Linked DNA regions of Homo sapiens: region 2 is linked to region 1. The links come from fine-mapping of genetic effects on gene expression. A gene starts in region 1. The other region holds a variant in brackets. All regions are shown on one strand. Distances are between the middles of the regions. Region 1 holds the start of MEX3D (mex-3 RNA binding family member D). Region 2 overlaps TCF3 (transcription factor 3).

Region 1 (5,501 bases):
AGCTACTCAGGAGGCTGAGGCAGGAGAACTGCTTGAAACCAGAAGGCGGAGTTTGCAGTGAGCCCAGATCACGTCACTGCACTCCAGCCTGGGCGACAGAGCGAAACTCCGTCTCATAAATAAATAAATAAAACCAGCATCTTGCCCCAGAATCCTCTACCCTAATGGAGGTGAGACGTCCGCACATCACAGAGAGGGGCCGTCATCTGCGCAGGGCCACGGCGGCCTGCAGGACAAGCAATCAGGGCCCACTCTACCCCCGACCCCCACTGTACCCCAGGGCCTGCCTTGCTGACGGCCACCAGCAAGAGCCCAGTAAGTGGGTGCAGAACGCACAGGCCAGAGGTGGGGGCTGAGCCTGGTGCCCACAGACTCCATTTCCCATGGACCTGCCCCTAGAGAATTCCCACCCTGAGGCCACAGGTCTAGAAGCTCTCAGCCTGACGCTGATTCCTGCCAGCTCCCCATGTGGCCATAGCCTCGCTCAAAGGCCCTTGGGTGCCAGGACAAGCGCGTTCACAAAGAACACAGCCACAGCCTCCACCACCTGGAGGCTCAGGCTCGTGCCTTTGGTCACTTGGTCCCCAGGCCTCGGCTTGGACGCCTGTCTCCACAGGCTCCCAGACACTCCGCACAGGGCAGCTGTCCCGTTCTAGGCCCTGGGTATGGGACATGGAGGCCGGGTGGAAGGCCTCAATGGGGAGGCAGTAACAGGATGGTAGGGCGCCCTCCTGCCAGGGGGTCCCACCAAGGGCAGCCAGCAGGACTGAGACAGAACCCAGTCCCTCCCCACCCACCACTCCAGAGCATGCTTCCTGGGGCCAGCACCATGCCTGACCCTCCGTGGGTCCCCACATGAGCTGGACAAATGAACGACCAAAAGACAGGAGGCTGTGGTGCCCCACCCACCTGGACCGAGGGAAAGGGCGGAGGGGAGGGCGCCCTGGTGGTCCCCCGCCTGAGGCCAGGGCCATAGATGACCTTGCAATCCCAGCCCCCCACACCTTTCTCTGGCCTGGATTCCCGAGGGCCCCGGGGAGGCAGGGACCCCCAGCCCAAGTGTCCTGCGGCCCCACCACCAGCCCCGCCAAGGCCCCACCCCAAGTTCTAGAACCTGGCTGATCACTGGCGGTCAGCGGGGACCCAGGAGCGGGGAGGGGTGGCGGGAAGGCAGGAGAAAGTTGAGGGAGGCAGGCGGGCGGGTGGCTAACGGGGTGGTGGGTGTGAGCTGGGCCAGGCACTGCCCACCACCCGCCCGCCCGCCCCGCAGCTCGGGGGCCAATGAGCAGCGGCCGGCCTGATGTCACCCTGCAAATCTCAGCCTCGCTCTCTAACAAAGAGAACAATGGGGCGGCCAGAGGGAAGCTCCGACGATGCCACCGCTGGACCCCACACCCGGGGCCTGCCGCCCGCCGGCCTGCCCAGCAGGCTGCACCCCAGAAGTGGCTTTGACAGCCGGTCCTTCCCCAGGCCCCGAAATCCCTGACTCGGGGCCAGAGAGTGGAGCAGGGACCCTCTCCTGCCCGGTCCCGTCCCCACCCCAGTCAGGGCCCCAGGCTGGAGACTGAGACGTGCGCTCTTTGTACTGTCAGCCTTCTCTCCCGGTCCTGCAGGCGGCCCCCCTAAGCCACCCCTAAACCTGCGCTTGCCCCGCCCCGCCGCCTGTGCTGGGTGTGGGGCGCCCCCCGCCCGGCCGGAGCCCCGGGCCCTCGAGCCCCTCTCTGGGGTGCCCCTGCGGGCGGCCGAGGGCCTGGGCTGCGGCGCGGCTCCCCGGAGCCTTTCCGGGCTGGAGGCGGCCCAGACAAAGGCGGCGGCGGGGCCGGAGCGCGCAGGGGAGGAGCGCGGGCTGCGCCCAACTTTCTCCCGCGGCGGCTGCAGGACAAAGGCGCAAAGGCAGCGGCCGAGGCCGGAGCCCACGCGGGGCGTGTCCGGTGCGGGGCGTCCGGCGCGGGCTGGGCTGGGCTCGGGCGACCCCCTTCCCCGGGGCGGACGGTGCGGGGACCCCCAGGACAGCAACCCCCGACGAGGGCCACTCACCCTGGCGACCCACGATCTCGGCGACGTGCTCGGAGCTGGGCACCGGGACGCACTCGGTCATGTTGACGCTTTTCTTGCGGCTGCCGATCACGCTCATCTGGTCGGCCAGCAGCGTCGGGGGCCCCAGGGCCGCGGGGTGGGGCGCGAAGCCCGCGAACACGTCGGGGGGCGACGGCCGGGGCGGCGGCGGCGGCGGGGGACTCGCGTTGGGGTCCAGCAGCGGCAGCGACCCGGGGGCCACGGCGGGGGCCAGGGTCGGGGGCGCGCCGGCCTCAGGTCCGTCGGGGGGCACAGGCTCCGGAGCCGCCCCGCCGTCCGCGCCCCCCGCCGCCGCTGCGCCGTCCCCGGCCGCCCCCTCCTCGTCCGTGTCGCCAGCGCCCCCCAGCCCGAGCGCCGACAGCTGGTCCAGCGCCAGGCGGAGCGCGGCGGCCGCGTCGTCGGGTTCGGGCGGCGGCCGGGGCGCGGGCGCGGCCTCCTGGGCGCCCTCGGGCGGGGGCGCAGGTCCGGGTCCGGGGTCCTCCCCCGCCGCCCCCACGCCGCCGCCGCCGCCGCCCCCGCCCCCGCCGCCGTCGGGCTGGCCGAGCGAGCTGGGCATGGCGGGAGCTAGCGCTGGGGCCCGCGCTCCTGCCGCCCGCGCCGCCGCCGCCGCCCGCGCCGCCCTCCGCCTCTGCGAGCTGGGCCGCCGGCCGCCTGCATCCAGCGGCGGGGGCGGGCACGGGGGGCCGGGCGGGCGGGGCGGCGGCGGCGCGGGGCTGCTCGGGGCCGGGCCGGGCCGGGCCGGGCGGCGGCAGCGACTCTGGCTGCGGCTCGGCGGCGGCGGCGACGGCGGCGGCGGCTCCTCGGCGGCCGAGGCGGCGGCGGCGGCGCGGGACGCTCCTTCCCTCCCGCCGCCTCCCGCGGCCCCGCCCCGGCCCCGCCCCCGCGACGTCACGCCGCGGCCCAACAATGGGCGGCCCCCAGGGCGCAGGCGCGCGGGGCGGGGCCGGGGCGGGGCCGGCGCCGGGCACGTGGTCCAGGCCCCGCCTCCGCCCGGCGCTCGGGCGGGAACCCGGGCGCATCCGCACGTGCGGGCGCTGCTGCAGGTGTGTGCGGCTCAGCCCCTGCCTGGACAGCGCTCCCTCCCCAAGCCTGAGAGTCCCTGCCTCGCGCGCCCCAGGGCCCGAGGTCCCGCTCCCCAATTTCCCCTAGAGATCCGGGTCGCCCCCAAGCGAGGTCTCTTGCTCCACGCCCGCTTCCTTGTGCCAGGGACCCCCACCTCCCTGCATAAAGGCGTGGGGTCCTCTCCAAGTCCCCCTCGCGATCCCACTGGACTTCGAAGTCAGGCTCCTGCCCGCCCACCGCCTCTGTGCCAGGGTCCAACCCCCGCCCCACGGTGCACCCCCCAGGGCCTGGGGTCCCAGTCCCCAAGTACCCCTTGCTATCAGGTGGGCTTTAGGGTCAGGCCCCTGCCCCACCCCCAGCCTCTGTGCCAGGGACAGCTCCACAATCATGCACACCCCAGGGCCTGAGGTCCCTCTCCCCTAGTCTCTCCTAGCTCCCCTCTGGCTGGCTCCCGGCTTTGGGATCAGGCCACCTCCTCCACGCCACCTCCTCCGCCCCACCCAAGGCCACAGACCCGGTCTCTGTGCCCCCAGCCAGAGACCTCTCTACCACAGTGGTGCTTCCATGGCGAGGGCAGGCTCACACCAGCCAGAACCCTCCATGTGGAGCCCCACCCTCTTCTGGGGTGCCTTTCCCCGCAACGGGCGTTGTCCACCTCTAAAGCCACCCTTGCCGGGCGCGGTGGCTCATGCCTGTCATCCCAGCAGTTTGGGAGGCCGAGGCGGGTGGATCACGAGGTCAGGAGTTAGAGACCAGCCTGGCCAACATGGTGAAACCCCCGACTCTACTAAAAATACAAAAATTAGCCAGGCGTGGTGGCGCGCACCTGTAATCCCAGCTACTCAGGAAGCTGAGGCAGGATAATTGCTTGAACCCTGGAGGTGGTGGTTGCAGTGAGTCGAGATTGCACCACTGCACTCCAGCCTGGTTGACAGAGCAAGACTCCTCTCAAAAAAAAAAAAAAAAAAAAAAAATAGCCGCTTTCCCAGCGGCTCTTCCTCCAGCTGTCCTTCGGGGCCTTCCTTGCACCTGTGGGGTTTTTTGTGATAAACCTGTCTGGCTGGGTCTACCTGCCCCCCTCTTCTACCAGACCTGTCCCTGGCTGGCTGTGCAAACTTGGACCGAAGGCAGGGCTCTCTGGGCAGGAGTGGGGCAGCCTGCCCCTTTGCCTAGCAAGGCTTCTCCTCTGTCCCCTCCCCCCGCCTCACACACCCTGGGTCCCCCTCAGCCACTCTTCTAGTCCCTCAGCCACAGCCACCCACTGCTGGGCCCTTCACTTTTGGTGGCTTCTCTGCCCACTTCTTCCAGGCAGGCAGGGTCAGGATCCCCCTGCCTGGAGCCCTTCCCCACCCAAAATCTCTCTCCTGACCCCAGGCTGCATCCAGCCCCACTTCCCCTCCTGGGGTCCTGGACTTCTCTTTCGTGCACGCCCATGCTTGGAATTGTTTTTCTATCTCTCTTTCTTTCTCTCTTTCTTTTTTTCTCTTTCTTTCCTTTTTTTCTTTCTTTCTTCCTTTCTTTCTTTTCTTTTTCTTTCTTTCTCTTTCCTTTCTTTCTCTTTTTTCTTTTCCTTTTCTTTCTTTCCTTTTTTTCTTTCTCTTCCTTTTCTTTTTTCTGTCTTTCTTTCCTTCTTTCTTTTCTTTCTTCTCCTTCCTTCCTTGCTTCCTTCCTTTTCTTTCATCCTTTATTTCGTTCTTCATTTCTTCTTTTCTCTCCCTTCCTTCCTTCCTTCCTTCTTTCTTTCTTTTTTTTTTTTTAGACGGAGTCTCGCTCTGTCACCCAGGTTGGAGTGCAGTGGTGCAGTCTTGGCTCACTGCAAGCTCCGCCTCTGGGTTCACGCCATTCTCCTGTCTCAGCCTCCCGAGTGGCTGGGACTACAGGTGCCTGACGCCACACCCAGCTAATTTTTTGTATTTTTTGTAGAGACAGGGTTTCACCGTATCAACCAGGATTCTCCCTTCCTTCTCTGCTCCCCTCCCCTCTCCTCTCCTTTCCTTTTCTTTCTTTTTCGGACAGAGTCTTGCTCTGTTGCCCAGGCTGGGGTGCAGTGGCTATTCACAGGTGTGACCCCAGGACAGATCAGCATGAGAGCTTTGACCAGCTCCGTCTCTGACTTGGGTAGGTTCAGCCCTCCTTAGGCAACCTGGTGGTCCTCCCAGTCCAGGGAGGTCATCATATTAATGTAGACGCTGGATCAGCATAGCTCACTACAGCTCAGAACTCCCGAGCTCAAGCAATCCTCCCGCCTCAGCCTCCTGAGTAGCTGGGACCACAGGTGTGCACCACCACACCGGGCTACTTTTTGTATTTGTAGAGACAGGGTCCTTTTTGTTGCCCGGGCTAGTCTTGAACTCCTAACCTCA
Region 2 (5,000 bases), 48 kb after region 1:
GCTAGGCCTGGCCAGACTCACTGTGGACAGAGGAGGCCTTGAAGACACGGGCTCAGCAGGCAAATACCTGGGCCACTCCAAAAACCCGGGACTGGGGAGTCCAGGACTCAAATCAGGGCTCACATGGAGCAAACCAGCTCCCATCCCCCGAGACCCCCACACCCTGGGGAGGAGCCTCAGAAATGCACCCGTCCCCTACAGTGAACTCCGGCTGCCCCAAGATGAGCCCTCCCTGAGCTCCTGCCCCTGGCTGGGAAGGCCAGCTCCCTAGGCCTCCAGGAACCCCATTGTCACTGCCACCGTGAATGGTCGCAGTAGGAGCTCTGAGGTTCCAAGAGCCTGTTCTGTGCCAGGCCCAAGGCTGAGCCCCCTCTCCAGCCGAGCAGCATGCAGCTGGCGAGCGGGCACTGTTGCTGCTGCCGCAGGGGTGCGGGTCCCGGCCCAGGCCTCTGTGCTGCATGGCCCTGCATGGGTGACCTCGCTCTGTTCCCTGGCTTCCTACTTGGTAGAATGGATGCCGGTCCCCATCAGGGCACCCACTGCTCTAGGTTGTGGTGAAGATGAAATGGGTGAAGGTCTGGCCCAGTGCCCAGCATGCCTGGTGCCCTGTCTTAGTCTCTAGGGGGCTGCCTCACCCACTTGCCTGCCCACCCTGCCTTAGGGGCCTGAGGGGATCCCTCCAGGTGGTGGGGGCGGCCCCTGGAGCCCAGGACAAGCGCACAGACCAAACTGACAGGACCAGGGGCTGCGTGCTCCCGGGTCTGGTTTCTTCCCGCAAGCCCTGACGGGGGGCTTTGGGGGAGGAAACGCCCTGAGGTTGCAGCCCAGCCGCTCCCGGTGCTCGGGCAGCAAGTGCGAGGTGAGGAGGGGCTGCCACGGGAAGCAGAGGGACGGACGGGCGGGATGGAGGGGAGGGCGGAAGGCAGACAGCAGAGAGGCGGGCTTGGGGGGCGCGAGGCGTGCCACACACGGCTGCAGAGACTCGGAAACCTTAGAGCTGAGGGGATAGCGTGTGGGCCGGGCCGGGGCTCTGGCTCCGGTCCCAGCAACAGTGCTGCAGGAGAGAAAGGGTTAACGGGGTGCAGGCGAGGAAAGGAAGGAGTTAAGGAAGCAGCCGCCAGCGCCAGCGGGGGGAAGGAGTCAGCTCACATCTGCGGGTGGGGACAGGGTCTGTCTGTATCCTTCCTCCCCCTGGCCCTGGGAAATGGGGGTGATAGGAAGTTTCCCTATCACCTTCAGATAGGGAAACTGAGTCAGAGACAGGGGATGGGCTCATGTGGCCTTGCGTGGCATCTGCCTGACGGGAAGGGGCCAGGGTGGTTTGCACACCAGCTCCTGTCTCTGGGATCGGGGGACACTGGCCTCTGTGAGCTGGGTTCTGGGCTTCCCAAGAAAGGAGGACCACGGCGAGTGGGAGCCCCGTGGAGCTGGGAGATACAGTTCTGAGCCACAGAGCCCAGGCCTGAAGGACTAGGGGTCCAGAAAGAGTCCAGTCCTCCCACTGTGGAGGGGATGCTGAGGCAGGCAGGGAGAAGGGCTGGCAGTCAGGAGTGGACAGTCATGGCAATGCGGTCAGAGGGGTGAAGGGCACAGTCACTGCAAGGAGGCAACTGCTGCAGAGGGAGGGCTGGCTCCAGGAAGGCGGGCGGGGAAGGAGAACGAGGGCAGGAACACGAGGGAGGGTGGCGCTGCAGGGACGCTGGTGGCCCGCGCCCCCACTGACCTCGCACTTGCTGCTCCAAGTTCAGGATGACCGAGACAGCCTGGTGCAGGATGAGCAGTTTGGTCTGGGGCTTCTCGCTGTTGAGGTGCAGTTGGCACATGCGCCCCAGCTCCTTAAAGGCCTCGTTGATGTCACGGACCCGCAGCCGCTCCCGGGCGTTATTGGCCACCCGGCGCTCCTTCTCCCGCTCGGCCTTCTGCTCTGGGGGGAGAAGGTCGTCCTCGTCCTCGTCTGGGCTATGGGGAGGGCGCCGGGAGGGGGCCAGAGGGAGACAGTGAGGTTGGGGGAAGAGCGTGGGGCCCGCCGACGGCCTCCCAGTGTGGGTGCGGTGTGCGTGTGGCCTGTGCACATGTGCGTCCTGATGGGGTGAGGGTGGGGAGTGCCGAGGGGTGGGTTGGCACCTGGTCCGGGCCCGGGGGGCCTTCAGCTCCTTCTTCTCCTCCTCCGAGTGGTCAGCCGCTGACGTGTTCTCCTCGTCCTCCTTCTCCTCCCGCTTGATCTCGCTGGCGGCCGCCGTGGCACCTGCTCGCCCTAGCCCTGCAACAGGCCTAGGGTCAGGGGCCTGCGT[C/T]GGCCTCCAGGGCCAACTGACATATCTCTTTGTGCTCCTGTGGTGAGGGACTTGGGCTTTCCTGGAAAAACCAGGTCTTGGCCAAAAATAAAAACAAAAAACCAACAACCAGAACTGGATCCCTACCTCACGCCATGTGTAGCTACCAATGCCAGACAGATTAAGGACCACAAGATGAAAGGGAAACAGTTTTACCACCTTTGGAACAAAGTGTGTAGAAATTCTGCAGCAACTCAATGGCAGGAATCTACTAAGATGCTAAAAGAACACTCTTCTTTTTTGGTGAAAGTAAACTGTTTCAATCATTAACTTAAAAATATGGAACACTTCGGATGGGCACAGTGGCTCACACCAGCTCACACCTGTAATGCCAGCATTTTGGGAGGCCGAGGTGGGTGGATCACGAGGTCAGGAGATCAAGACCATCCTGGCTAACATGGTGAAACCCCATCTCTACTAAAAATACAAAAAATTAGCCAGCTGTGGTGGTGGGTACCTGTAATCCCAGCTACTTGGGAGGCTGAGGCAGGAGAATCACTTGAACCCAGGAGGCGGAGGTTGCAGTGAGCCAAGATTGCGCCACTGTACTCCAGCCTGGGTGACAAAGCAAGACTCCGTCTCAAAAAAAAAAAAAAGAATAAAACTTTGGAACACTTCAGGAATGTCCACGTCACCCTTGTGCAGATGCTATGCTAATCTTTATCATTCTCATTTTAGTCCAAGAGCTGTCCAAGCAAGTGCTCAAAGCGCTGCTTTTGAAAGAACACAGGCCGGGCACAGTGGCTGACTCACGCCTGTGATCCCAGCACTTTGGGAGGCTGAGGTGGAAGGGTCACTTGAGGCCAGGGGGTCATGGCTACCGTGAGCTGTGATCATGCCCCTGCACTCTGGTGTGACAGGGTGAGACCCTGTCTCAAAACAAAACAAGTAAAAAAGAAAAAACAAAAATCAGTAAGCTGGACTATATCAGAATTGAGAGTTCCTGATCAGCAAAGATACCAGGAAAAGAAAAGCATTTGCCAAAGAATAGAAGACACCCACCACAGATGTAGCCAACCAGGAGGTGATCTCCCACAATCAATGGGAAAGGACAAAAAGAAAGTAACTCAGTAGAAAAATAAGCAAGGTATCCAAAAAGGCATCTCACAGACAAGGAAACCACATGGCTAGAAACACGTGGAAGTCCGCTTCAGCACATCAAGAGATTAAGGAAATGCAAATTAGGGTGGCTTTGCGCTACCCTTTCATACCCAGTCAGCTAGCAAAGTTGAGGGACCTGAACAGTCAAAATCTTGCCTGTGGGAGGGCAACTTGGCTGCTTTGGAAAATAATTCATCAGCCTTTCCTCTGAATTGACAACAGGTGTATCACACCCTTGATCAGCAGGTTGGCAGGAAAGCGTGATGTTGGAATGACCTACAGCCCCACGCCCGGGCCAGGGCCAACGGCACACTCACAATGGGACCCCAGCCGCTCACACCACACATGTACCCCACACACAACATAAGCCAGCAAACCAGCGTGTAAAGAACACGCTAGTGGGACGCCGTGTTCATGAAGCTCAAGAACAATAATTGCAAAACATGTGGCTTAAGGGTACACAGTGCCCCAAATGAATGCGGCCACTCTGCATTCAGCAGGGCCTGGGCCACCCCCAAAACCCGGGCTTGGGGAGTCCAGGAATCAGTCAGGGCTCACATGGAGCAAACCAGCTGCCATCCCCTGAGACCCCCGTACCCTGAGGGGGAGCCTCAGAAATGCACCCGCTCCCCACAGTGAACTCTGCTCCAATCGGCCAACGCCAGCCACCAGGACCAGCCCAGGCCTCAGCACACGAAGTGAAGGACAGGAAGGAAACAGAGGGGAGCCTATGGGTGAAAGACTAAGCTTGGGGCTGCCCCTGGAAACTGCTGACCTGTGGGTCCGGACCCTTCTCTGGGGTGGGGCCGTCCTGGGCACTGCAGGGTGCTGAGCAGCATCCCTGGCCCCCACCCACTCCATGCCAGGAGCTCCCCTCAGCCCTGACAACTGTAGATGTCCCCAGACATCACCCAGTGTCCCCTGGGGGCAGAGCCGCTGCGGTGAGATGCCCTGGCCTAGGAGTGATAGAATCAAGGTACTTGGAAAGTCTGCCTGGAAAGCAGGCAGGATTCCTGGGCTGGTGGAAGGCACAGGGCCAGGACAGCGCCCACAATGACCCCACCTTCTCCTGGGCCTCTCATGGGTGTCTGAGACACTCAACAATCCCCAGGCCCAGGTCCAGATTTGTCCCCAACCTTTTCCTTTGTCCCCTTCCTTACGGAGTTCCCAGCCCCAGTGTCACCCACAGCTCGGGCCAGAAATCCCAGAGCCACCCTGCCTTCTCTCACCCTCAAGTCCTGTCCATCACAAATCCTGTGGGCCCCGCCTTCAGGAGATGCAGGGCCCACCCACTGCTCACCCCTCCAAGGCCCCTGGACCAGCCCTGTGGCCTCTGCCTTGGTCTCCCGGTGCCACTCATAGTCTGTCCTCCAAGCAGCCACCAGAGGGTATCTGTGAGCACCTGGGTCAGGTCCCATCCCTCCTCAGCCCTCCACGGCTGCCACCTTTCTCATGGCCAAATCCCAAGTCCTCCCCGCAGCCCACAAGGCCCCGCATGACCTGCCCTGCCCCGCCCTCCCCCCTTCCCTCTCTCCCTCTCCTCACTCTGCTCCAACCCCACGGGTCTCC

What was found.
Region 2: its variant is fine-mapped to the expression of MEX3D in blood mononuclear cells (TOPMed, PIP 0.94).

Annotation. Positions count from the first base shown.
Region 1 is chr19:1,565,427-1,570,927 of GRCh38, forward strand. It overlaps MEX3D (mex-3 RNA binding family member D), which reads right to left and starts at 2,899. Exons shown (of 2, transcript NM_203304.4): 1 at 2,038-2,899. The coding sequence starts at 2,632. It also overlaps the pseudogene RN7SL477P. RefSeq lists silencers at 2,899-3,088, 3,129-3,178.
Region 2 is chr19:1,613,562-1,618,561 of GRCh38, forward strand. TCF3 (transcription factor 3) reads right to left here. Exons shown (of 19, transcript NM_003200.5): 17 at 2,125-2,260; 18 at 1,724-1,959. It also overlaps the pseudogene RNU6-1223P. Among named protein-coding and RNA genes, the nearest start is that of UQCR11, 11 kb to the left of the region's middle. The variant C/T (reference allele first, on the strand shown) is at 2,292.